Linked DNA regions of Homo sapiens: all the other regions are linked to region 1. Evidence: fine-mapped expression QTL. A gene starts in region 1. Each other region holds a variant in brackets. All regions are shown on one strand. Distances are from middle to middle.

What was found.
Region 2: its variant is fine-mapped to the expression of MFF in whole blood (INTERVAL, PIP 0.97).
Region 3: its variant is fine-mapped to the expression of MFF in sun-exposed skin (GTEx, PIP 0.99). The same link has a PIP of 0.9 or more in anterior cingulate cortex.
Region 4: its variant is fine-mapped to the expression of MFF in whole blood (TOPMed, PIP 0.97).
Region 5: its variant is fine-mapped to the expression of MFF in whole blood (TOPMed, PIP above 0.99). The same link has a PIP of 0.9 or more in spleen and thyroid.

What each region holds. Positions count from the first base shown.
Region 1 is chr2:227,322,956-227,328,063 of GRCh38, forward strand. MFF (mitochondrial fission factor) reads left to right here and starts at 2,296. Exons shown (of 9, transcript NM_001277062.2): 1 at 2,296-2,472. It overlaps MFF-DT (MFF divergent transcript), which reads right to left and starts at 2,209. Exons shown (of 14, transcript NR_102371.1): 1 at 2,163-2,209. RefSeq lists an enhancer at 2,118-2,167 and a silencer at 2,348-2,637.
Region 2 is chr2:227,494,737-227,499,844 of GRCh38, forward strand. The region is part of intron 2 of AGFG1 (ArfGAP with FG repeats 1); the gene reads left to right. Among named protein-coding and RNA genes, the nearest start is that of AGFG1, 25 kb to the left of the region's middle. The variant T/C (reference allele first, on the strand shown) is at 2,865.
Region 3 is chr2:227,269,577-227,274,684 of GRCh38, forward strand. COL4A3 (collagen type IV alpha 3 chain) reads left to right here. Exons shown (of 52, transcript NM_000091.5): 24 at 334-404; 25 at 1,194-1,376; 26 at 3,373-3,541. The region is part of intron 4 of MFF-DT (MFF divergent transcript); the gene reads right to left. Among named protein-coding and RNA genes, the nearest start is that of MFF-DT, 53 kb to the right of the region's middle. The variant A/C (reference allele first, on the strand shown) is at 2,194.
Region 4 is chr2:227,369,893-227,375,000 of GRCh38, forward strand. It overlaps TM4SF20 (transmembrane 4 L six family member 20), which reads right to left. Exons shown (of 4, transcript NM_024795.4): 2 at 1,023-1,088. Among named protein-coding and RNA genes, the nearest start is that of TM4SF20, 6.9 kb to the right of the region's middle. RefSeq lists an enhancer at 682-1,881. The variant A/G (reference allele first, on the strand shown) is at 3,089.
Region 5 is chr2:227,354,139-227,359,246 of GRCh38, forward strand. MFF (mitochondrial fission factor) reads left to right here. Exons shown (of 9, transcript NM_001277062.2): 8 at 1,539-1,623; 9 at 2,848-3,695. The coding sequence ends at 2,979. Among named protein-coding and RNA genes, the nearest start is that of TM4SF20, 23 kb to the right of the region's middle. The variant A/C (reference allele first, on the strand shown) is at 2,426.

The sequences.
Region 1 (5,108 bases):
CTCCGGTCAGAGGGAAGGTTATCTTGGGGCTGACATCGCTCGGTCAGAGGGAAGGTTATCTTGGGGCTGGCATGTGTCTGGTGGGAGAGGGGTTTATCTTAGAGTTAGAATGTTTCTGGTCGGAGGTGTCATTTGTGGTTTGTGGTCATGCTGACAGCCATTAGGCTGATGCCCTCTGGGTTGGATTTAGGTGGTTTTTGATCAAGGGGCACTTTAAAATGGCAGTGCTTCTGCTCTGTCAATAGTAGGATATGCCAACCCAAAATATGGCACTTTGGCATAAAGATTATTTTCGAGTCAAAGGCACTTAAAAAAAAAATGCAAAAAGAGCACTGTGGCTTTCCTTTTTCCTTCCTGAAAGCAGGAGATAAAACTTCCGTATGAAAGGTGCCCTCCCTGTATAAGGAGGAAGGGAGATGTTCTCAACACCAGAGACATGGAGTCAAAGCTGAGCTGTATCTGCACAAACTTACCGATTTTCATTTCCACTTTGTTACAACAACCTTTATCTTCTTAGTCACTTCTGCATTAACTGCACTAACCCAAATCTGTTTGTTTTCTCACATTTTCACAATTTACTACTCTTTTTAGCCTTCCCTAGAAAAATGGAGACTCAAAAGCACTTAGGGTCCAACTGTTAATTTGGGTCTCCATTTTTCTAGGGAAGGCTCCAATGTAAATGTAAAAATTACTAAATAAAATTTGTATGCTTTCCTCCTGTTATGTTTTATGTCTCTATTTTACGTCAGTGGAGACTAAGCTCTGATTTTTTTTTTAATCTTGCTCAAATTCCTATCTAAGGGGCCTAGGGATTCATGCCCTACAATCCATAAATTCTCATCAGATGGGTTTTATTTAACCCTATATATTGTGACTTACTTTCCAATCTGACACTGGCATAACGAGACAAGAAACAAAATCAAAATATTTTACCGCAAAACATTTTTTTTAGTTTTTGACATATCTTGAAACGGCTCTGCAAAGCTGTCCTTTGTTGGGGGAAAATCTGCATCTACATAGAATTTCTATTAACATAGCTAGATCATTTTCTTCCAGGTCCTCCCAATCCTAAAGAGATTACGTAAGAATCTAGCACCTTTTAAAGATCTGAATAGGAAACATTTGTCATCCATTGTCTCTAAGGGCAGCCACTATAAGACTTCAAAAGAACCTTGGTCTCCACAATCTTTTATTTTAACCTCAACATTTCCTTTCTATGGGTCCCAGGTCTTCAACTGTCAACCAGAAAATGTTTAAATTTACCTACAGCCTTGGAAGCCCCTGCTTTGAGTTGTCCCACCTTTCTGAACCAAACCAATGTAGTTCTTAAATTTATTTGATTGATGTCTCATGCCTCCCTAAAATACATAAAACCAAGCTGCGCCCCAACCACCTTGGACACATGTTCTCAGGACCTCCTGAGGGCTCTGTCACGGGCCATGGTCACTCACATTTGGCTCAGAATAAATCTCTTCAAATATTTTAGAGTTTGACTCTTTTCCTCATCAGTTTAATTCTTAGGCCCAGCCAAGACCCCAAGAGGGGAGAGGAAATATTTTCACTTTCCCTACACCAGTGTTAAGAAGCCCAAGAACGCAATTCAGAGGGCTTCCCAAATCATTTTGAAGAATGGTAACATCTCTAGAATATCAATTAGATCGTAGGGGAGTACATAAGTCATGTGTACACCTTTAGGTGTTTGTGAAAACCAAGGCATATAAAATATCACATTATTTGGCCTCAGTACATTCCCATACTGACAAGCACTGTACCATTTTTCCCCCGCTCTAAGCAAGGGCTTCCTGGGGGGAAGAGTCTGTGGTTGGGTGTTCAGAAGCAGAGAGTGCTCTCCCAAAGCTAAACGATGCCGCCAACTACTGTGAAACTTAACTTCCCCTCTCCCGGAATTCTCATGGAAGACAAGGTCTGATCAACCGAGGGCTTAAGAAGTATCAAATTGGAACTCATGGAATCACTGGCGGAGCTGATTTACATATGAGAATTCCTAAGCCTCACAGCATAGAAATTTTCATGCCAGATGGTCCTGAAAAAGTTGTTTTAATTGGCTACCAAAGGTTTACCTTGCAAACACCAAGTTCTTAAAGATTACAAAATCTAATAAAGCCGAAGTGTGAATTAAACTTAACCGCAAGAGGAGTCACCTGCGGTCACCTCGTTTCGCCCACAACAAAGATGTCTGCGCATCGCTTACCGTGGAGCCGTTCCAGTGCGTGGGCCACGCGTCCGCCCTTTTCCGCGTCACATGACCACGAACACTCTTCCGCTACGGCTCCCAGAAGGGGCCAGCCCGCGCCTTTCGCGCTTCTGCCCTGGCCCTCTGCGGGCCGCTCCGCCGGTGCTGTCCCTGGGCGCCTCCGTGCTCTCAGCCAACCACCTCTGAGAGCGCCCACTCGAGCGCCCCGGGAGCCAGAGGGCGGGGGTCCTCGCCGGGACCCTCCTGTGGGCCCAGGGGTGAGTGTTGACGTCTTCCCGACCCGCGACCTGCCGCCCGAGCTGGCTGCCAGGCCTATCGCCGCCGCCGAGACCCTCCGGCCAACAGGGACCCGCGGTGGCCCCGGCCCCCCCGGTAGTGTCTCCCTGACCCGAGTCCCGTCCCCGGGCCTCTTGCCTTCAACCCTGGTCTTTCCTCCTCCCCGGGACCTTGAGTCCCCGAGGAGAGCGAGGGAGAGGAGCGTCTTCTGCAGGTGTTTTTGGGCGAACCTCTTCACCTTGTGTGGTTCGGCGTCTCCTTTTGTGTATTAACCCGGACTTTTCCGACTGGAAAATAGGGGTTTGGGAAGCAGCGGGAGTCCCGTGAGCGTGAACGCCGGGCTTTGCAGGTCTTCACTCATCCTTCCCTGCCAAGGCCCTGACACCTTACAGGCTGACCTTAAACCTGCCTTGTTTAAAAGGAGGTTTTTGTGTTGTTTTGTGGCAAGTACATTTTGGAAAAGAAGGGCCTTGTTGGAAGCCCAGGTTGTGGCATCGCGGGTGGCTGCGGGCCACCCTGTCCGTCTGTGAGCATCCCTGCTCGCAGATGTGGCTGCAGGCAGTTGCTCTCGGGTTTCCTTCCAGGAGCTGGGAAGCCGGAGGAAAGCTGCGGTTCCTGTTCCGCCGAGCTTCTGACCTTCCTCTGCAGGACGTGTGCTACTATTACTATCGTAAAAGAACACCCCTGTCTACCTCCCACAAAGTTAGAAGCAAAGGGCATTCTCGAGGGAAGAGCACCCTTTCAAAAGTGACATGTTTTCATTGGAGAACATTAAAGGGGAAAAAAAAAAAAAAGGTTTCTGGCCCTTCTGCCCAAATATAGAACCATTTGTATTCAGGCCTCTCATCCACCGAGAGACTTAAGATGATCACAAATGTTTTGTCTCCCTGCGTGAAAAACATTTTTTCTGCCTCAATTCCGTTGGCTAATGAGAGCCCAAAAGAAAAACCCTTAGGAAAATTAGGACGATTTAGTTATACTTAGTAGTCTTTTCCCATGCAATTAAATTGCTTGGGGGACCTTCTATCTTTTGGTTTCAAAGGCTTGTATATTGGTTTTGCCATTTTTTCCAAAAGGAAATTGTGTTCTCTCCCTTCCTGTCTGATAGAGCTGCCTCCTTTCAGAATTGCAAAGTTTAGTCTTCGCTCTCCTCTCTTCTGGTATTGAAACTTTTCTGTGGGTTCATAACCTTATTTTAAAGTTCATTAATATATAGTTTTAAAAGTTTGCAGTGACTTTTTAAATATAGTTTCTTTGAAAAAGAACTGAAACAGGGTGTGCAGAGTGGCCCATCTGTGTGAACTAGGTCCACGCAGTAGGTAATAAACAACTGGAGGGTTTTTTTTGGTTTGTTTTTGTTTGTTTGTATGTTTGTTTTTGAAAAGTACATAAACATTTGCAACCACAGTCAGTTTGACTCAAGTTGTTTCGGTGACTTCCGAGGCTTTCTGGGTTCCAGTGTTCTAATACAGAAAATGAGAAAGTTGGGCTGGAATCATTGTGTCCCAAAATTGGTACACTTTCCGCTAGTGGCATGTGACTTGACTCTAGGCGGTACGTGGATGAGGATTTTTTTGTAATAGGATGTTTTTGCAATCTGTATTTATATATGTACAGCCATGGTTTAAGGTAGTGATACAAAATTTTCTTTTACAATACTTTTTTGATTTTAAAAAGTCGAGTTAAAAAAATTAACTGTAGCAAAAAGTTAATGTACTCTGTGAATATGGGAAAAAAAAAACCCATGAAGTTGGCAAGTTAGTTACTGGTGTTTGGGAACCACTGGGCTTAGAAAGTAGAAATATGAAATCATCTGTGATTCTAAGAGAGATTTTGCCTCGTTTGTTATGTAACAGAATCACGTACTGGTTGCCTACTGGATTCTAAGGTACAAAACTTCTGGAATTAACATATCAACACCAAATGAGACGTTTATTTATTGCCAAAAGATATTATCAGAAATGCCACAGTCTAACGAGGGAGAAAAAAAATCAGATTTTGATTGGTTTTAAGCAGAAAACCCAATAATTGGGATAATACAGTGTTAAATCTTAGTAGAAATCCAGTTACTTTTTAAATGTAAGTAGTTCAGCTACAGGAGAACTTGGCTTTTTCCAGAAGTTGGCATTTCAGCATCCACCTTTATTTTCTAAGTCACTAGTTTTTTACAAACTCAGATATTCTCGTAAGAAAAGATGTTGCTATAGAATGGAATATAGTAGTGAGACCTATGAGATGTACTACTAGAAAGTTCGTAAGACTGAAATGCAATGAATGGAATGCAGAGAAAGCACATTTCAAGGAGATACTGAGGTTCTAGCCACTTGGTTCTCGTTTATTATTATAAAACTTCAATTTATAATGGCCAAAGGCTATAATCTTTTTGAGGTAGCTTTTTTCAGTGTTAGTTCTGAATATGAGCTTTTGCTATGCTTGAGATACACGCAAGTATTAGAAGAGCATCTCATCTGGAATGATGCACAAAAATTGATTATAAAGGTTGCCTGTGGGAACCTGGGTGGTTAAGGATAGGATTGAAAGTGGGACACTTCCTTTTCTCTGTATAGCTTGCGTACTTTGTACCGAGTACATGCATTACTAGTTCAAAATTTTAACA
Region 2 (5,108 bases), 170 kb after region 1:
TATAATTTAATTCTGTCTTAATACTTGCATTGTAGTTGAACATCCTATTGCCAAAGAAAGTCATGCTCCAAGCCCAGAATCAGAGTGAGAGGGGCTACCAAGTTACAGGGCAAAGGGCATGGATACAATCACACAACTGATGGCAATACGAATTGTATTTTAGTCATCAATAAAGTATATCTGTATTGGTAGCTGTGGTAAGCAAATAATGTTATTACTATTTATAGATATGCATAGAGACCATACTTACAGAGTAGATCATTAGTTTCTACAGATGTGGTTTACAAATTTCTTGACTATTACTTTAGTGTTTATAGACTTCTACAGTGTGTTTGGTGGAGGAGATATGTATATCATTAAGTTACAGCACATAATATGCCAGATGCTAGTAAAATATTTCGCATTGGAGCACTTTGTATTTATTTGCTGAAGTAATTTTTGTCATTTTTTTCAGAACCAGAATATTTCACAAAAAGTTTCCATGTATTTCTTTTGTATCATACAGTTACTTTAAAAAAAAACCTGTAGTGATCTTGGCACTGTAGCTCCCCTGTAATCCCAGCACTTTGGGAGGTGGAGGTGGGAGGATCCCTTGAGGCCAGGAATTCGAGATCAACCTAGGCAACAAAGCGAGATCCCATCTCTCCAAAAATTTAAAAATTAGCCAGGCGTGGTGGTACACATCTGTAGTCCCGGCTACCCAGGAGGCTGAGGTGGGAGCATTGCTTGAGCCCTGGAGTTCAAGGCTGCAGTAAGTCATGATCATGCAACTGCACACCAGCCTCGGTGACCAAGCGAGATACTGTCTCAAAAAAAAAAAAAAAAAAATCTATAGTGATTTTCTGTATGTCCTCATTTGTGATGTCATGGGCAAATTATGGTTTTCTAGTTAAAGGAAGTTGGATTAACTTCTGATTATAAAGTTAACGGAAGGTGGACTGGTGAACACTGCTGTAAGTAGATAATTCAATGGAGAAGAAAATTTAGAAATAATTTTATTTTGAAATATGTATAGTTTATGTTTTCTAGTTGTAAGTTAACCTTCCTAATATGTTTGAAGACTAAAAGTAAAAGCATTACTACTGGCCAAGTGCAGTGGCTCATGCTTGTAATCCCAGCTGTTTGGGAGGCTGAGGCGAATGGATCAGTTGAGGCCAGGAGTTCAAGACCAGCCTGGCCAACGTGGCGAAACTCTGTCTCTACTAAAAATATATATATATTAAAAAAAAAAATTAGCCAGGCATGGTGGTGTGTGCCTGTAATCCCAGGTACTTGGGAGACTGAGGTGGGAGAATCGCTTGAACCTGGGAGGTGGAGGTTACAGTGAGATTGTGCCACTGCACTTCAGCCTGGGCAACAGAGTGAGACTGTCTCAAAAAAAAAAAAAAGAAAAAAAAAGAAGACATTATTATTAATGCTCCACAGGCATGGTCTATGTGTAGGAGTAAAATCAGGCATTGCATGCCAGTATTTGATTATCTCTATACTGGATTAAAAACAAAACAAAATGATTGCTTTGAAAACCCATGCAATAACGTACACTTTTCCCTTGTTAACATTCATGATTGATTCATTTTTGAAGCAGAGATTTATTAATAAATTACCTACTGTGGGAGAATGGCGTGAACCTGGGTGGTGGAGCTTGCAGTGAGCCGAGATTGCGCCACTGCACTCCAGCTTGGGCGATAGAGCGAGACTCCGTCTCAAAAAAAAAAAATAAATAAAATAGCCTGCTGTGTGCCAGGAACTGTCCTTAGGTCCTAGGGATACAAAAAGGGAGATGATTCCTGTCCTCCCCTTGCAGTCTTCTACATGCAGGAGACATAATAAAAGTACAGTGGTCTTGTGCTGAAAGCTCAGATTTGGACTATGCAGGTTGTGAACCTTGGGCAAGAAGCTTTTTAGCCTTAATTTCTATTGGTAGTAACTATAATACCTATGTATAAAAATGCTAGGATTTTTTGAATTAGGCCAACTTGTGAAAATTCCCAGCGTATTTCTTGTCAGATAGTATTTATTTATTGAATCTGAATCTAAAGTGGTAGAAGTTATAAGAAGAATTATCAATTTTTATTTTCATTCCTGGTTTGGATGGTTTCTGTAGGGGGATTTTTCAGTTTTCATAGCATACTGTCATGTCATTTACATTAATATTCGGGTTATGTATTTAAACTCTTGGAGCATTTTAACTTCGATTTTCTGCTGAGTTTAATAATAATGAAAATTGATAGTTATTTTAGTAACAACATATTGCCATGTAGAGTGGCAGAGTTAAGTTATATACTCATTAATTCAGGATTTACAGCTATTCTGTTGCCTATGGCAGGGGTTGGCAAACTGCTTGTAGTGGCCAGATAGTAAATATTGTAGGCTTTGTGGGCCACCTGTATTCTCTGTTGCATATCCTTGTTTGAAATTCACCCCCTCTTCCCCCCCCACCCCACACACACAATTCTTTAGTGTAAAAACCATCTTTAGATTAAGGCAGTATAAAAACAGGCTAGTGATGACCCAGTTTGGTCTGCAGATTGAAGATGTATAGAACTCTTAACGTTTCAGCTTGCAATGTAAATCTTTTTATGACCTGACTTCTTAATGTAATGACGTTATTGCCAGCAGAAATGTTTTAACTACAATGATCTTTGTTTTGTTTTCCACATGTGCTATCTGTATTCTAATTTTCTTGCCATTTTACCAATGCTGGCTTTTATTTTTGCTTGACTTTTCTCTTCTAATCCCATCAGTCTTTCAGGAGTTTTTATACCTCAGATACTAACACCCCCATATGTATTTTAAACTGTTTAAAAAATAACATTCACTGTAAGATTTACAAAAAAAAATTTTTTTTGTTATTGCTCTTAGTT[T/C]CTTCTGTATTGGTCTTACTGCCCTCAAGACATTATAGACATCTCTGTGGCATAATCTTGCATACGTCTTAATTATACCTAAAGCAGTGAAAATGCACAAGCATATATAGCCAAATGAGTTTCTTTCTTGTTTTGTTTTTTTTTTTTTTTTTTTTTTTTTTGGGGACGGAGTCTTACTCTGTCGCCTAGGCTGGAGTGCAGTGGTGCAATCTTGGCTCACTGCAACCTCCACCTCCCAGATTCAAGTGATTCTCCTGCCTCAGCCTCCCAAGTAGCTGGGATTACAGGCATGTACCACCATGCCTGGCTAATTTGCTAGGACTCAAAAAAATCCGTGGTTTAGTTTGATTACCACTAATTTATGAACCTTGTTACCTTGGGGAAACCACTTTTCCCTGACCTTCATTTTCCTTTGTAATCTGTGGGAAATATCTGTTTTGCCTATTTCATGAGGTTGATTTGAAGGTAGTATATAGGAAAACATTTTGAAAATTGATGTATTATATAGATGTAAGATCATGGTTTTATTTTATTTTTTAAAATTAAAAAAAAATTTTTTTCCCCAGGTTTGGTAACTTGCCCAAGATCGTGCTTTTATGGGCAAAGATACTTTTCCAGTTGATTCCTAAACACAGAAAATAAGTATCACATAGGAACATGGCATGCTTTGAATTGAATTTAGGGTGGAGATAAATTTTTGCAGAATTTCAGTCAGTATGATGGTATTAATAAATGAAAACATTCACTAATAATACATTGAAAAACATTTTAAACTACAAAATTAATTATTTGAGGGAATAGCTTCCTAGAGGGATATCTCAGGTTTAAAACCATCCAATTAAAATATTAAAGCACACTATTGTTATTATTTAAGGGATATTTATTTAGTGTCTGCATATTTATGCACGTCTGGCCTTTTAAGCATTTTGAAAGGAAGGTATGGTGCTATGGCTCTTCTAAATATTAGCTGAATCTAGTCAGTAGTAACTTAGTAAAGTTGAAAATATTTAGAGTATATTATTTGATGTTAACTGTTGGCTTTCAGAGAAATACACTAACAAAAATGTAGAAAATGTAGACATGTCTTTGTGTTGAACATATCATAATCCGTGGGTCTTTTTGAATGACAGAAAACCCAGAGATTTATAGAAGAAGCTAGATGTTGTTTGTAACTACTCTGAGAGTTTACTTAACTTTTTTTACATTACATATTCCAGGTTACAGTGTATTTCTTTCTAGCTGTTTGCCTTACCATTCTAGCTTCCTGTAATCTCTTAGCTTGTTTTTTTCTTGCCATTGTGTGTTATCTTCTAAAAAATCTTACTTGACTCGAATTAAAACAATATAAATCATTAGATGCTTTTGTTTCTTTTTTAAAGAGTTTTTTTGTGGAGTTATTCATGCCTTTAGACAAGTAGATAATGTAACAAACTTCCATCAACACATGGCTGTCTTTTTATTATTTTTAAGCAAATGCGAGACATAAAATTTCATCTGTAAACTCAACTCTCATGTTATCTGTAAATTTCAAGGACTTTAAAATATATATGGCAACAGTGCTATTTTTGTCCCTATGACAATTAACAGTAATCTAGTCATCTGGTCAGTGTTTTAAGTTTTCTGTTGTTCATCAGTATCTTACTTTTCTTTTTTTTTTCTTAATGGTTTGTTTGAATGAGGATCCAGGTAATATCCACACATCGAGTGGTTAAAATGGGCTTTAAAACTTTGTATTGCTTATAAAGGATTGGAGGCTTGGCTGGGCACCATGCCTCATGTTTGTAATCCCAGCACTTTGGGAGGCTGAGGCAGGCAGATCACTTGAGGCCAGGAGTTCGAGTCTAGCTTGGGCAACATGGCAAAACCCCATCTCTACTAAAAATACAAAAATTTGCTGGGCGTGGTGGCGTGTGCCTGTAATCCCAACTACTCTGGAGGCCAAGGCACAAGAATCACTTGAACCCAGCAGGCAGAGGTTGTAGTGAGCCAAGATGGCACCACTGTACTCCAGCCTGGGTGACAGAGTGAGACTCTGTCTCAAAAAAAAAAAAAAGGAAGAAAAAAAGGGATTGGAGGCTAGATGGATCACAGTGACACCTACAAAGATTGGACTGGAATGGACCTGTATTAGTAGTATGTGGCATAGATTCAGGCAGAGGTTTGTGTTAGGGGCCTCAGGCCAGGTAGTTATTCTGGAGCTGGATAATCTATAACCTGGGGCCCCTGCCGGCTTAAAGTCCCTGG
Region 3 (5,108 bases), 53 kb before region 1:
GATTTATAGGTGATTTTTAGTCTCTTCTTTCTGCATAATTTTCTTATAATGAGCATATATTACTTTTAAAAGTAATATATACTCAGAAAAAATAAAGATATATTCTTAAAATTATGAAGATAAAATTTTAAGAAGCTAAGATCTGAGTTACTTTTTACATGATCTCTTGTTCTGTTATTTACTCCCATTCTCTTATTGCATTTATGTTTTATGATAGAAGTTGTCTTTCTTTCCCCACAAGGAAACACTCTATTTTCTTCATACATTGTATTACCCTGTCTACTTAGAGTTGGCGTTCAATGAGGAGTTAGTTAATAATTCGTTGATTTGCAGGAAGACAAGGCGCAGCTGGCTTGAAAGGAAGCCCAGGGTCCCCAGGAAATACAGGTCTTCCAGGATTTCCAGTAAGATTTCATGTTTTTAAATCTTTAGCTTCAATTTGACAAATTGCACACTCTAGAAATATGGTTGCAACACACTTACCAGTTTGGTGCCTTGCAAACAGTAGGCACTTAATAGATACCTGTTGATTAAATGAATAAATCTGTGACTGATTAAGTGAATGAGTCAATGAATTTATAAACAGTTTGAAATGGTATCAGAAACAGAAAGCAGATTAGTGGTTGCCTAGGGCTGAGAGTGGGAACAGAGGTTCATTGCAAATAGGTTTGAGGGAATTTGGGAGAGTGATGGAGATGTTTGAACGTGATTGTGGTGATTGTGGCATAATTCTATAAATTTACTAAAAATCATTGAATTGTACTCTTATAAAGGAGAAATTTTATGGTATGTAAATTATACCTCAATAAGTCCGTTAAAAATTAGAATCTTGACTGTCATAGTGAATCAAAAAGTTATAGATAAATATACTTAGATCAAACTATTCAAAGAGGCTTGTTAAAATTTACCAATATTCAAACATAACCTGTATTATGGTGATTGTTCTATGGTATTAAATTATATTATTGTCTGTATTGCTTTGAATTATACTATCTAACTGAATTATTTTTCAGTTTTGGAAGTTAACAACAAAGCAAAACAAACAAAATGCTTGTAATAATAGTTGTGGACCAAAGAGTGTGTTGAAAAAATTCATGTTAAAATTGAAAAGTTCTTGTCCACACTGTTTTTAAGATTGACAGAAGAAGAATTCTAACAAAATACAATACAGATTCATTTGTGTACTACCCTAGGGTTTCCCAGGTGCCCAGGGTGACCCAGGACTTAAAGGAGAAAAAGGTGAAACACTTCAGCCTGAGGGGCAAGTGGGTGTCCCAGGTGACCCGGGGCTCAGAGGCCAACCTGGGAGAAAGGGCTTGGATGGAATTCCTGGAACTCCGGGAGTGAAAGGATTACCAGGACCTAAAGGCGAACTGGTTGGTATTTAGCAACTTTACCCTCCCTATAAATGAAGTACTCTGAAGTTAAGAGATAAAGTGATTTCTTTTCCAAAAATGGTTGGCCGCTCAGCACAGTTCATCACTCTAACTGCAGAATGAAACATCTTCAAATTAGCAGGAATAACCCAAGCAAATAGTTATAGTATTTTGACAGAATAAATAGGTAGCATTCAGTGATTTCAACCAATCAAAATTCTACATTGATAATGACCCCATCTCATACACAAATTACAGTTCCATATTTGTATCAAATGAGTCTATGGAAAAGTTCAGAAAATGATGTATAGTAGAAAGTTTAGTAAATATTTTGGGGCGATGTCCATATTTTTAAATAAAAATAAATGCATAAGAAGACAGCATATTTAGGGGTATGGTAGTCAAATAAAGAGATTAAATGTTTTGTCATTCATTTAATTTTATGGAAATTTAATCCCTTTTCATGAGAGAGTTTCTCACATATTTAATTGAGGTAATACCTACCAAGATTTTTTTTTTTTTTTTTTTTTTTTTTTTGAGAGGGAGTTTTGCTCTTGTTGCCCAGGCTGGAGTGCAATGGTGCAATCTCAGCTCACTGCAACCTCCATCTCCTGGGTTCAAGTGATTCTCCCACCTCAGCCTCCTGAGTAGCTGGGATTACAGGCATGTGCCACCACACCCAGCTAATTTTGTATTTTCAGTAGAGACGGGGTTTCACCATGTTGGCCAGGCTGGTCTCGAACTCCTGACCTCAGGTGATCCACCCACCTTAGCCTCCCAAAGTGCTGGGATTACAGGTGTGAGCTACTGCACCCAG[A/C]CCTAAGATTTATTTTAAAATGTCACAGAGTGAGAGGGTGAGCACCTGTCATCATAATGTATTTACAAGAGGTTTGCAAGGGATGCTGCCCAAACTATTCTATGAAATACCAGTTTCTCCCAGGGCTAATCTGTGTTAGCCAATAAAACAGATCTTACCTCAAAGAGGTTTGGAGAAACTTGGTAAACAAATTTAAAGATTCATTTACAGACCCTTTAATATCAGAATATGAACTGTGAGTCTTCCACATGAAGATAAGCTATCTGGTCTTTCCTAAATGCTTCTGACTACAAAACCCTTTTTGGCTGGCAGCATCTATGGTGCCAGCAGTTCTCAGACCCTGCCTTGGCCAAGTCCCAGGTTGTTCACTTTGTGGTAGTTATGCTTATAAAGTGACAGTGCCAGAATTCTGATGGTCTAATATTAAGAGAATTTGTATGATGTCCCTACTTGCATCTCACTGATTTTTCTTTATAAGTTCTGGTAAAGATGCTCCATAAAGTAAATGAGAGAAAAATCAAGGTGGTGATTTGTTGAGTCTTACACCCTGTCATTAAAAAAGGAGACAGACCACTTAGCCATCTGATGATATTGAACAATGAAAAATTGAGTCAAATTTATTTCAGAGGGCCATGTTGGGAAGGAAGAGGGCTTAAATTATTTTGTCAAATTCAATTTCTTTTAAATCTACAAATCATTTTCAAGGTTATAGCATATGAAGATTTAAAAACTAGACAGTTTATGAGAGAAAATGGAAGTGGGAAATCCCCTTTGTCATGAAAATACCTGGTGAAACCAGAAATAAAGGTTTGCTGTGCTCATTTTATTTCAGAAATGTAACATTATCATGAATATCACCACTAAAGTCATTTGAACTATTGGTCAATTTGAACATAGTTTTAGTGGCTATTACCATATGGGAGACCCATCATTGTAAGATATCTCAAGTGGGACTCAAGACAGTTCCAAGTTCAAAAAATGTTGCTAAACTCCAAAGGACACAAAACGGAAGAAACCTGCAGTGCTCTTACTTTAGTAATAATTCTCATCAAATGCCAAATGCTTTTAATTCAAGATCTCAATGACAGCCTAACTGGTATTCATATTTGGAGGATGATTAACCTGTTGTAAGAATATACTGGAATGAAGCACGATTCAAACACATTCCTGTTGTCACAGGCTCTGAGTGGTGAGAAAGGGGACCAAGGTCCTCCAGGGGATCCTGGCTCCCCTGGGTCCCCAGGACCTGCAGGACCAGCTGGACCACCTGGCTACGGACCCCAAGGAGAACCTGGTCTCCAGGGCACGCAAGGAGTTCCTGGAGCCCCCGGACCACCCGGAGAAGCCGGTTGGTTAGTTTTCTTTCCAGTCCTGTTTTCCGATGGAGTGGGTTGATGGTTTCTAGAGCTAACGAAGCTTCTCCAAGACTAAGGAAAATATAGAAACTTGCTTCTAACGAATAGAATATGTCAACTCACAGATACCAGGAAAGAATATGTAGGGTATGTTAGAGAAAACTCATTTTTTCTCCATTACTGGGCAATTCAACTGAAATTTCCTAGAATATTCTATATCTATTACATACATACATATATATATATGAAATGAATAGATCCTAAGCGTTATTGCAAATTTGTTTTTTGTGGTTTTCTAGAGACAGGGTCTCACTGTGTTGCCCAGGCTGGAGTGCAGTGGCATAATTATAGTTTACTGCATCCTCAAACTTCTGGGCTTAATAGATCCTCCTGCCTGGTCTCCTGAGTAGCTGGGGCTACAGGCACGTGTCACCACGACCAGCTAATATATATTTTATTTTTATTTTTTGTAGAGACAGGATGTTGCTGTGTTGTCCAGGCTGGTCTCCTACTCCCAACCCCAAACAATCCTTGCTTCAGCCTCCCAAAGTGCTAGGATTACAGGCGTGAGCCACTGTGCGCAGCCACAAATTTGTTGATTTTGATCCATAACTCCATAGGCAGGTTACAAATAAAACTTTAAAATATCTAAGACAAATGAAGGAAAATGGTCTGATAATAGTTTAAAAGTCCAGGTAACTTTTGGGATATACATATACTGGCCGTAGTTCTGGATTCAGGAGTGTGGCTGAAGGTCAGAATAGCATGCTACTGATAGTTTTGAGCAAATAATGCCAACATGGTCATGTTTTACTTCTAAAATCACCTTAGGCTGGGCACAGTGACTCACACCTGTAATCTCAGCACTTTGGGAGGCCAAGGTGGGCAGATCACTTGAGGTCAGGAGTTCAAGACCAGCCGGGTCAACATAGCGAACCCCCATCTCTACTAAAAATACAAAAATTAGCTGAGCATGGTGGCACATACCCACAGTCCCAGCTACTTGGAAGGCTGAGGTAGGAGAATCGCTTGAACCTGGAAGGTGGAGGTTGCAGTGAGCCAAGATCGTGCTACTGCACTCCAGCCTGGGCAACAGATTGAGATACTGTCTCAAAAATAAATAAATAAATAAATAAATAAATAAATAAATTTTAAAAATCACTTTAAAGGGTAAGACCCAGTAAACCTCTAAATCATTTTGTAGTGTCTTCCCTCATCAGTAAAACTTTTTGAGTGCACAACCTTACATTATATGTTATAAATGTATGCATCATTTCTGTCCACACATGTATGTAAATCTTATTTTATGACTTTCTCTATATATTAAATAAACAAATAAATATTTATGTTTATCTGCACCTTACTTTGGAGCTGCTTTTTTTTTTTTTGTCTGAGATGGAATCTTGCTCTGTCGCCCAGGCTGGAGAGCAATGGCGCAATCTTGGCTCACTGCAACCTCCGCCTCCCAAATTCAAGTTACTCTCCTGTCTCATCCTCCCAAGTAGCTGGGATTGCAGGCACCTGCCACCATGCCAGGCGAATTTTTATATTTTTAGTAGA
Region 4 (5,108 bases), 47 kb after region 1:
GTTTGGATAAAAATCCACTTACTAGTGTGCTACACTGGCAAATTATTTACTTTCTCTGAGCGTCCATTCCTTCGTCAATCAAACACACTTCTTACTTTTTCCCACTTAAGGGTTTTGAGAGAATTAAATGAAACAGCATCTCTGAAAGTGTTCTGAGCAGAGTGACACTCCGGTTAATGAATCTTAATTTACTTTTAACTTCGTTACGACTTTATACATAGTGGGTAGGCATTAAATGTTTTGGGGGAAAAAAACCTGGCAGCTCCTTTAATTTAACTGGATAAAGGCAATTGTCATTCTAATCCTAGCAAACCAGTCTGTCATTGCATGAGAGAACTGAGTACATTTTCCCTGAGTATTTTATATACGCCACAAAAATATCACACCCGAGTATTATGAAATTGATTGCAGCTGTGGGCGTGACTTACCAATCTCCTTTCTTTGAAAACCTTTAGATTGAGGAAAGGACAATCCACGGAAGACTGAGGAAGGGACAGAAGGCCAACTCTAAATGTTTGTGGGACAAAAAAACCCGTCTCACTTTTTCTACTTCTATATAATCATCCTAAATAGCATGTTTCAGGCCAGGCGCAGTGGCTCAAACCTGTAATCCCAGCACTTTGGGAGGCCGAGGCGAGCAGATCACTCGAGGTCAGGAGTTTGAGACCAGCCTGACCAACATGTTGAAACCCCCATCTCTACTAAAAATACAAAAATTAGCTGGGCGTGATGGTGTGCACCTGTAGTCCCAGCTATTCAGGAGGCTGAGGCAGGAGAATTGCTTGATCCCGGGAGGCAGAAGTTTCAGTGAACCGAGATCGCACCACTGCACTCCAGTCTCAGCAACAGAGCAAGACCCTGTCTCTAAATAAATAAATAAAAATAGCATGTTTCTAAGGCTGTGGCTCTGTCAGTGGAGCCCCACTGTGATTCGGTAGATGCGAGTGACTCAGTGTGGCTTTGCTTAGGTAGCAATAACTGTTCATGCACTTCTGCTTCCACGCCGACTGCTTCATACTTACTCCAGTTCTGTTGTTGCAGCACGCTCTTTTTCTTGCTGTCAAGGACATTGTTGTTGCTGGAATGGCCTGGAAATGACATCAACAGGAAAGATGAGTATTATAACTTCTCATCAGAAGAAAAAATAGTAATCTTCACCTTCCGTTTACCACCAGTTGTGGGAAATCAAGGCTCAAAGAACAAAAAGGGAATTTGGCAATATCCGTGGTTTTGTGAACCTTGTCATCCCAGTTTCAACCAGAAAGATTAAAAGTGGCGGCGGGAACAGGGGAATTCAAGACAGGAGTTTTGAAGTCTTCTATCTACATTCTTAGTTCACTCTGAGTCATCTGCAGAGAATTGGATTTTAAATAGATTAGGATGACTTATTTATACATTATTTTTGGAAGAAATGTTTCTGAAAGAATTGGCTGCATCATCCAAACTCTGTTGTTTGTTTGTTTAAAGAGTAGGGGTCTCACTCTCTTACCCAGGCCAGAGTGCAGTGATACGAGCATAGCTCACTGTAGCCTTGAACTCCTGGGCTCAAATAATCCTCCTGCCTTAGCCTCCTGAGTAGCTAGGACCACAGGTGTAGACCACCACACCTGGCTAATTTTAAAAATATTTTTGTAGAAGCAAGATCTCACTCTGTTGCCCAGACTGGTCCTGAACTCCTGGCCTCAAGAAAACCTCCTGCCAAGAAAACTAAAGATGTGAGCCATTACGCCTGGCCCGATTTCCCAGAAATTGTATGGATTATTCTGGCAAACCTGCAGAAAAGAAATTGATGGTTTTGTTTGCCTGGCAGTTGGGAACAAATCATTCTGTCACCACCCACTCCCACTAGCCTTTCTTTTCCCAGGATCCCGGCTATCTTGCTGGTTTCCCCAAACTTATATTTGAGAATTATTTTTGGTTCCACGTTCTCCTTTCTCTTCCTATATCCATGATATGTAATGATCTCACTTTATATATTGATGCTCAGAAATCTATAGATCGCATTCTGCCTTCAGGGAAATACACGTTGCCAAGGAAAGCTGTAAGAAAGAACACCATATTCTCAGGACTTGGGTTTCAATTTTTAGTATATCTAGGCAGCAGCTACGACTAGAAATTCTTACTGGAAGGAGTTTTGTATCATTGAAGGGTGGAATGTAATTATTTCCTTCCGCTTGAGAAATTTTAGGCGTAGGTTTTTTTGCCATCTCAGCACAGCTGCCCTTGAGTGGTTTTTCTCTCTCCTTCTACTCTCATTCTCTAACATTTTCCCGAGCTCTGGCGAATGCCAGACTCTGTTACAGGCACTTTACACGCCTTAGTTTATTCCATCCTCATAATAATCCTATGAGGTAGGTGCTATTATTATTCCCATTTTACCAATGAGAAAACTGAGGCATAGAAAGGACAAATTACTCAAATTGTCCTTCTACTTTCTTGGTAGAAGGGTTGGGATTCAAAACTAGTCATTTGGCTGGGCGCGGTGGCTCATGTCTGTAATCCCAGCACTTTAGGAGGCCGAGGTGGGTGGATCACGAGGTCAGGAGATCGAGACCAGCCTGGCCAACATGAGGAAACCCCGTCTCTACTAAAAATACAAAAATTAGCTGGGCGAGGTGGTGCACACCTGTAGCCCCAGCTACTCAGGAAGCTGAGGCAGAATTACTTGAACCTGGGAGACAGAGGTTGCAGTTAGCTGAGATCATGTGACTGCACTCCGGCCTGGCGACAGAGCGAGACTCTATCTCAAAAAAACAAACAACAACAACAAAAAAAGCTAGTCATTTGGGGTGCAGAGCCCACATAGTTTTTTGTTTTGTTTTGTTTTTTTGAGACAGGGTCTCACTCTGTCACCCAGGCTGAAGTGCGGTGGCATGATCACGGTTCACTGCAGCCTCAACACCCAGGGCTCAAGTGATCCTCCCACCTCAGCCTCCCGAGTCGTTGGGACTACAGATGCATGCCATCACGCCCTGTTAGTTTTAATTTATTCTGGGGGGCATTTTTTTGTAGAGACGGGGATTTTGCCATGTTGCCCAGGCTGGTCTCGAACTCCTGGGCTCAAGTGATCGCCTCGGCCTCCTAAAGC[A/G]TTGAGATTACAGGTGAGCCTCTGTGCTCAGCCGGGACTCTTAATCCCTATTCCACACTGACTCAAGTCTTACAATTCTCCCCTATTCCTACCTAGAGTTTGTTCATTCTCATCTTCCCTGCTGCCTTCACCCTTGCCCATCTCATTGTCCTTCCAGTTACTCCCACTCTGATTCATTTATCCAAGGCCACATCTGCCTTTATTCTTTTAGCACGGGTTTAAAGTTTATGCCTCTTTACAAGGCAGCTTTCCTAACAAACCTCACTCCATCTGATGATGTACTGCCTCCATGTCACTTTGTATTATTATCAAGCTTTGCTTACACATTGCCTTGAACACCACCACCCTCCTTATTTAGAGGCCACATGTGTATATGGCTGCCTAGCCACCTTGGCGCATAGCTGAAAGCCCAGAAGAAAAGGGAAAAGAAATTTTAGCTCCCAAATAGGTATCAGTATTCGTGCACTAAACATCTTTTATTGTACACATAAGCTGTACTGCCTTTTGAGCTTACAGGACAAATCATTTAGAACGGGAACTGGCAAACTATGGCCCACCACCTCTTTCTTGTAAATAAAGTTTTATTGGAACACAGTCACATCCATGTATTTACATATTGTCTATGGCTACTTTTGTGCACCAAGAGTAGAGTTAAATTGTGTGGAAGAGGCCGGGCGCGGTGGCTCACGTCTGTAATCCCAGCACTTCAGGAAGCCAAGGTGGGCGGATCACGAGATCAGGAGATCGAGACCATCCTGGCCAACATGGTGAAACCCCATCTCTACTAAAATACAAAAAATTAGCCGGGCTTGGTGGCACGTGCCTGTAGTCCCAGCTACCAGGGAGCCTGAGGCAGAGGACTCGCTTGAACGCGGGAGGCAGAGGTTGCAGTGAGCCGAGATCGCGCCACTGCACTCCAGCCTGGTGACAGAGCGAGACTCCGTCTCAAAAAAAAAAAAAAAAAAATATGTGGAAGAGGCTGGTTTATAAACCGAAAATATTGGCTGAATATTTACAGTTTGCCAGCTACAGATTTAGAAAATTAATGATTCTTTTAAAAGAAAGTGCAAGTGTACTCCAGCCTAGATGACAAAGTGAGACCCTGTCTAAAAAAAAAAAAAAAAAAAAAAAAGTGGATTGACATTACAACTTAAATGGATAAATTGTTCTATTTTCCTTGTTGATGCAAACTGAACTCTGGTAACTTTCTTGAAGATAAGTTTATTTCAGAGTTACTAAATATTTCCTTTCATGATTCACTTACAAAGGGGTTTTATAAAGGGACAATTACTTACAGTGTATAAGTCACCACCCCACCGACTTCAAGGCGTATTAACACATCTTTGTAATGCTGTTACTGGTGATTTGACAACTCGCTGCGGTTTCAACCGCTTTCCCATTCAGAGCTCCGGAAATTGGAGGGGCTCTTTAGACAGACACTAAAACTGTGAATGGTGTGTGTGTGTGTGTGTGTATGAATTATATATAAATTTTCCAGATAATCTCCTGCCAAAATGAGTAATTATGAGAACACACTTTCTCTTCATTTCCTAAGCATATTTGAATGCCTGAGTTTTTGTAAAATTAAAAGTCTTGCTAGTCTTTTGTTTTTAAAAAGGAAAGTAATATTGTTGATTTTTTCTTACAGAGCCCCCTAATTGTATTTAGTTTGAGAAGTTACATGATTTTACAAATGAAGTGTGGAAAAACTTCAGACCATTAAAAATCCTGTGATGAAATTCAGACTTTTGGGAGTCCTCTAAGAACTTGAACATGAGAGTAACACACAAAGTCATAGCTCATTACAAATATCAAAACTATATTTTGCAGCCAGGCATGGTGGCTCATGCCTGTAATTCTGGCACTTCGGGAGGCCAAGACAGGAGGCTTGCTTGAACCCAGGAGTTTGACCCCAACCTGGGCAATATAGTGAGACCCTATCTACAAAAAAAAAAAAAAAATTTTGAGACAGAGTCTCACTCTGTCACCTAGGCTGGAGTGCAGTGGCACAATCTCGGCT
Region 5 (5,108 bases), 31 kb after region 1:
GGAATATTTGGAGATGGTTGTAGATTATCTAGAGTCAGTACACACCATCTATTGTTTAAGGTTTTTTGCATACTTTATTAAAGTATTTTTATTACTTTTAACAATATTTAAAACAAAAGGATTTTCTGAGTAGACTTGTCTTTAACATGTCTGGATGAAAAGTATAATTCTGCTTCATATCCCTTTTTGTGGGTATGTACTTTTTGTAGTGGGGACTTGCTGGGATAGGTATTAGAATAGATGATCCATTTGCCAATTCTCTGGACTACACAGGAATAACTTTTAATTTAGTTTATTTATATTCTGCTCATTTAGAAAATTTACTATGCCATTTTACTAAAATAACCATTTAGGGTATAAAATACATGTGAGGTGAATTATGTGGTTATATAAGTTGTATCTCAATGAAGCTATTAATTAAACTAAATTTTAAAATGTGGAAATCCAGGCAAAGAAGAGGAATGGCGTTTGTCTTTGTTTTTCAGAGGTTTAGTGTCATTCACCTAGAAATTAGTGCCGCTTTAGAAGTAACTACATTGGAACAAAAAGTACTTTTTTAATATGCTTTCTCTGGATTTTGTCTTAATGGTTTTTCAGTATTATTTTATACACAGCATTTTATTCATTATTGGGCCAATTCTGGAGCTAAATGTAGTGGTAAGATGTATTCAGGAGATTTTATAATTGTTTCTGCGGGAGAACACAGTAGAGCATAAGTAATTGGAAATAAGTAAAGAATAGGCCAGGCGTGGTTGCTCAGGCCTGTAATCCCAGCAATTTAGGAGGCTGAGGTGGGTGGATCACCTGAGGTCAGGACTTTGAGACCAGCCTGGCCAAAATGGTGAAACCCCATCTCTACTAAAAGTACAAAAATTAGCCGGGCATGGTGGCAGGTGCCTGTAATTCCAGCTACTTGGGAGGCTGAGGTAGGAGAATCACTTGAACCCCAGAGGTGGAGGTTGCAATGAGCCGAGATTGTGCCATTGCACTCCAGCCTGGGCAACAAAAGTGAAACTCTGTCTCAAAAAAATAAAAAGACAAGAAGTAAAGAATAAAAATGGCAAGACAAGAGGCAGTGAGAAGAGGTGATGAGTCTTTCTTTTTTTAGAGTTAGTCTACTTTGTGTTCCCTGCTAGTGAGTCTGTGCCTATGGGCTTACATATGGACATAAGTTTGTGTAAGAATTATATTTTGTTCTATCCTAAGTGGCAGCTCTCAAACCTTTTCAGCCAGGGACCCTTTTTAGCATCGCCAATCCTTCTGGCTTGAGAATTTTCTATGTGTTTCTTTAGTCAGGATTTTTTTCCCATTCTCCAGTTTTTAGTGCCCTTTTTCAATATTGTAGACAGTTGTCATTTTAAGCTTTTTTCTTTCCTTTATTAGTACAAATTCAGGTAGTAAAATATTTTAGTAATTCATATTATTAAGTACCAATTTTCTGAATACTACTTTGAGCATTACACAAAGCATGATGTGGCGTGCCATTTACTCTGAGTTCTACTTTACTATTCATTTGTATTTCTATCTCTTATCTGCAGGTATGGCATTTCAAATATAGATACAACCATTGAAGGAACGTCAGATGACCTGACTGTTGTAGATGCAGCTTCACTAAGACGACAGGTATTTAGTGTACCAAATAAGATATATTTCTCAGTTATATTCATACAATATTTTAAAGTGATAGTTCTCAACATTTTATTATTTTCTCTCCTGTGGGACTATCAAACTAGTAAGCCATCATTGATTTTCTCATTTTGATTAAAGATATATTAAACTACCATTTACATGTTTTGATCACCGTAAAACAGTATTACCAAGATAGATTAATGTAATTCTGGCCAGTAACAAAGAATCTTTAGCAAACCAGTACAGCCATCAGTTGCTTGTTTGGCTTTTGAAATGTGGAACAATTACTTTGGAACCTTTGTTACTGTGTTTAATAACTCCATTTTGGAAACCGCTCCTTGCAGCTTGCACAGCATCCCTGCATACGTATTTCCTGTATTCTGTAATAAATCCTTTCTTAGAACTGCAGTTGCACATGCATATTTTTTAATATGTACTCCCACAGCCTCGAGTATCACACAGACATACACACATGTGAAGAAGGCATAGTTGGTTTTCTCATTGCGTCTATACCAAATAGATATAGAGGGAAATTGGATTAAATAAGATATTTTTAGGTGAAGATCAGTAGGAGAACACAAGCTTTAGCAGGTGGTTGTTCAGCCCTGGGATTTTCACAGTAAGGGCTAACAGCAAGGATGGTACTGTCAGCCAGCAGCATTTCCAGCAGCTGGGGAATTAGCCTTCAGGCCTGAAGGGTTTGGGTGCCATATCCCAAGGCCCCCTACAGTAGATTATTTTATTGGATTGTCTCAGTAACTCAGAGGTGGACAGAGAAGGCGGTTATGCCAGGTTC[A/C]AGATGAACAACTGAGGTTGAGTGACAAGTTCATAGGAGAGGCATAGAAAGGGGAAGGAGTCCCGTATTCTTTCTGCTGTGGTAAGCCTGCCAAAATGCATACTGAGTCTTTTCTGCCAGAATAACAGTAGGTAACCGCTTCCTCACCTCACTATGTAATCAAGTTAGGAAGGAAATACACCCTTCCTAACTCAGAAATCTGAAGAAGGGAAAGGGAAAGGATGTTTAAGTGAATTTAAGCTGTCATGAATGACATGTTTTTCTATGTGTAGTTGTGTTTATTTTGCTCCAAATGAAACTTTCCATGTTTGTAATAATACTTTTGTTGACAAATTATTATACTACTTACTTTATAAGAATCTGATTGCCCTATTCATTAAAGCCTCTATATTATATTTTTTGTGTGTTTGTTTTTCACTTAGATAATCAAACTAAATAGACGTCTACAACTTCTGGAAGAGGAGAACAAAGAACGTGCTAAAAGAGAAATGGTCATGTATTCAATTACTGTAGCTTTCTGGCTGCTTAATAGCTGGCTCTGGTTTCGCCGCTAGAGGTAACATCAGCCCTCAAAAATACTGTCTCAACAGCTGGAAATATAAAAGATTTGCAAACTTCTTTGTTTCTGTCTCTGCATTGTATGCCATTTTATAGTCCACACCCTGAAAATGTATTTCTTCCAGAAAGTCTGGAGGAAGGACCTATATTTGTAGAAGTAAAGGTATATTCTGTCACTCAGCTGTATTCACGTCTGAGCAGTTCTGCAGTAACACCTGCTTAAAATTCTCCCTTTGCATGTTTTGTAAATAGGCTCCAGTTTTGTTTTTTAAAAGGAATTTATTTTTTGCCTCATCAGTCCACCCAACTGATTCTGAATGGGAGAGAGTCTGTAGAGAATTGATTCAGAAAAGTGTCTGTGAAAGAAAAACAATTATTTTGTCCTGTTTCTCAAACAGTGTTAAGCAGTTTTGTTAATAGACATTTTTGCATCGACACTTCAACATTAACACTTTCAAAGTCATGGTCTGGTGCCAGATTTAAGAAACTCGAACCACCTAATATTTCATAACCTTCTTCATTAGGTACTTGTACAGATTAATTTCTAACATTGCAGCAGTTTCATATGTGTGCAATATGTGCATTCTTTCATTTTAGTTTTGCACTTGGTTTTCTATAAAGTACGTTTTTACTCAGTTCATGCGTGAACAATTTAAAAAACGACAGAATAAGGTACAAATGTAGTGTATTTAATAAACTGTCAACCAAAGAAGTATTTGTCTGTTGAAGGATTTTATTTCATCATTTGTGCAATCAGCTACATTTTGTATCATATTACCTTATGAGTCTTCCCGTCTCAGAGCAAGTAATACAATTAATGACCTGGTAGGTAGCAAGAACCTGCTGTGCTTCCTTTCAGACCTTCATCCTGGTGGTGGTGGCTGTTGGTTGCATTGTAGGTGGTTTTCTAATTTATAATATCTATAAAGTGGTTCAGGTTTAAATACCTTGAGTTGTGTATACTTTTTTTTTTTTGAGATGGAGTCTCGCTCTGTTGCTGATGCTGGAGTCCCGTGGCATGATCTCAGCTCACTGCAACCTCCACCTCCCAGGTTCAAGTGATCCTTCTGCCTCAGCCTCCAGAGTAGCTGGGATTACAGGCGCTGGCCACCACACCCAACTAATTTTTGTATTTTTAGTAGATACAGGGTTTCGCCATGTTGGCCAGGCTGGTCTCGAACTCCTGACCTCAGGTGGTCTGCCTGCCTCAGCCTCCCAAAGTGCTGGGATTACAGCCACTGCGCCCAGCCAGAGTTGTATATACTTTTTTCATGGCAGTATTTATTTGCTAATTATATATAGGTGAATTTAAATCTCAAGGCTGGGTGTGGTGGCTCACGCCCGTAATCCTAATACTTTGGGAGGCCTAGGCGGGTGGATCACTTGAAGTCAGGAGTTCGAGACCAGCCTGGCCAATACAGTGAAACCCCATCTCTACCAAAAATACAAAAATTAGCCAGGTGTGGTGGCAGGCATGGTGGCAATAGCTGTAATCCCAGCTACTCAGGAGGCTGAGGCAGAAGAATCACTTGAACCCAGAAGGCAGAGGTTGCAGTAAGCTGAGATCATGCCACTGTACTCCAGCCTGAGTGACAGAGCCAAACTCCGTCTCAAAAAAAAACTAAAAATTTAAAAGTAAATCTCAAAAGAATTAAACCAAGTGAAGCCAAGTGCTAGACAGTTTTAGCTCTCAAAACTTATATTTCCCCATTTTCGGTTCAGAAATGGGTAGAATTCAGTTAGGTGCAACATTCTCCACACATCTTTGGTATCTTTCTTCCAAGGCAGGGAGTTTGGGGAAAGGCAGTTGAGGAAATTCCTTGGATAGAGTTAGATTTAGCATTTCCGTTCTTGCTTCTTATCCCTCTAAAATAATATCAAGACAAAGATTCTTCTCTGTACTTAGAAGTTTTCTGACTTTTGGTAATGATGCAACTATATTAATTCTAGATTTATGTATACCAGAAGGTAATTTCTGTGGTTATCCTCCAAATTGAAATCACAAAAATGAAGAAAAATGATGGATAAGGTTAGTATCTTTTGATAAACAGACATGAAAAGGATTCCACAAAGGTCAAAAAATGAAATAAAAGCAGGAATACTGAGAGAGAAGTGCGGAAGCCCT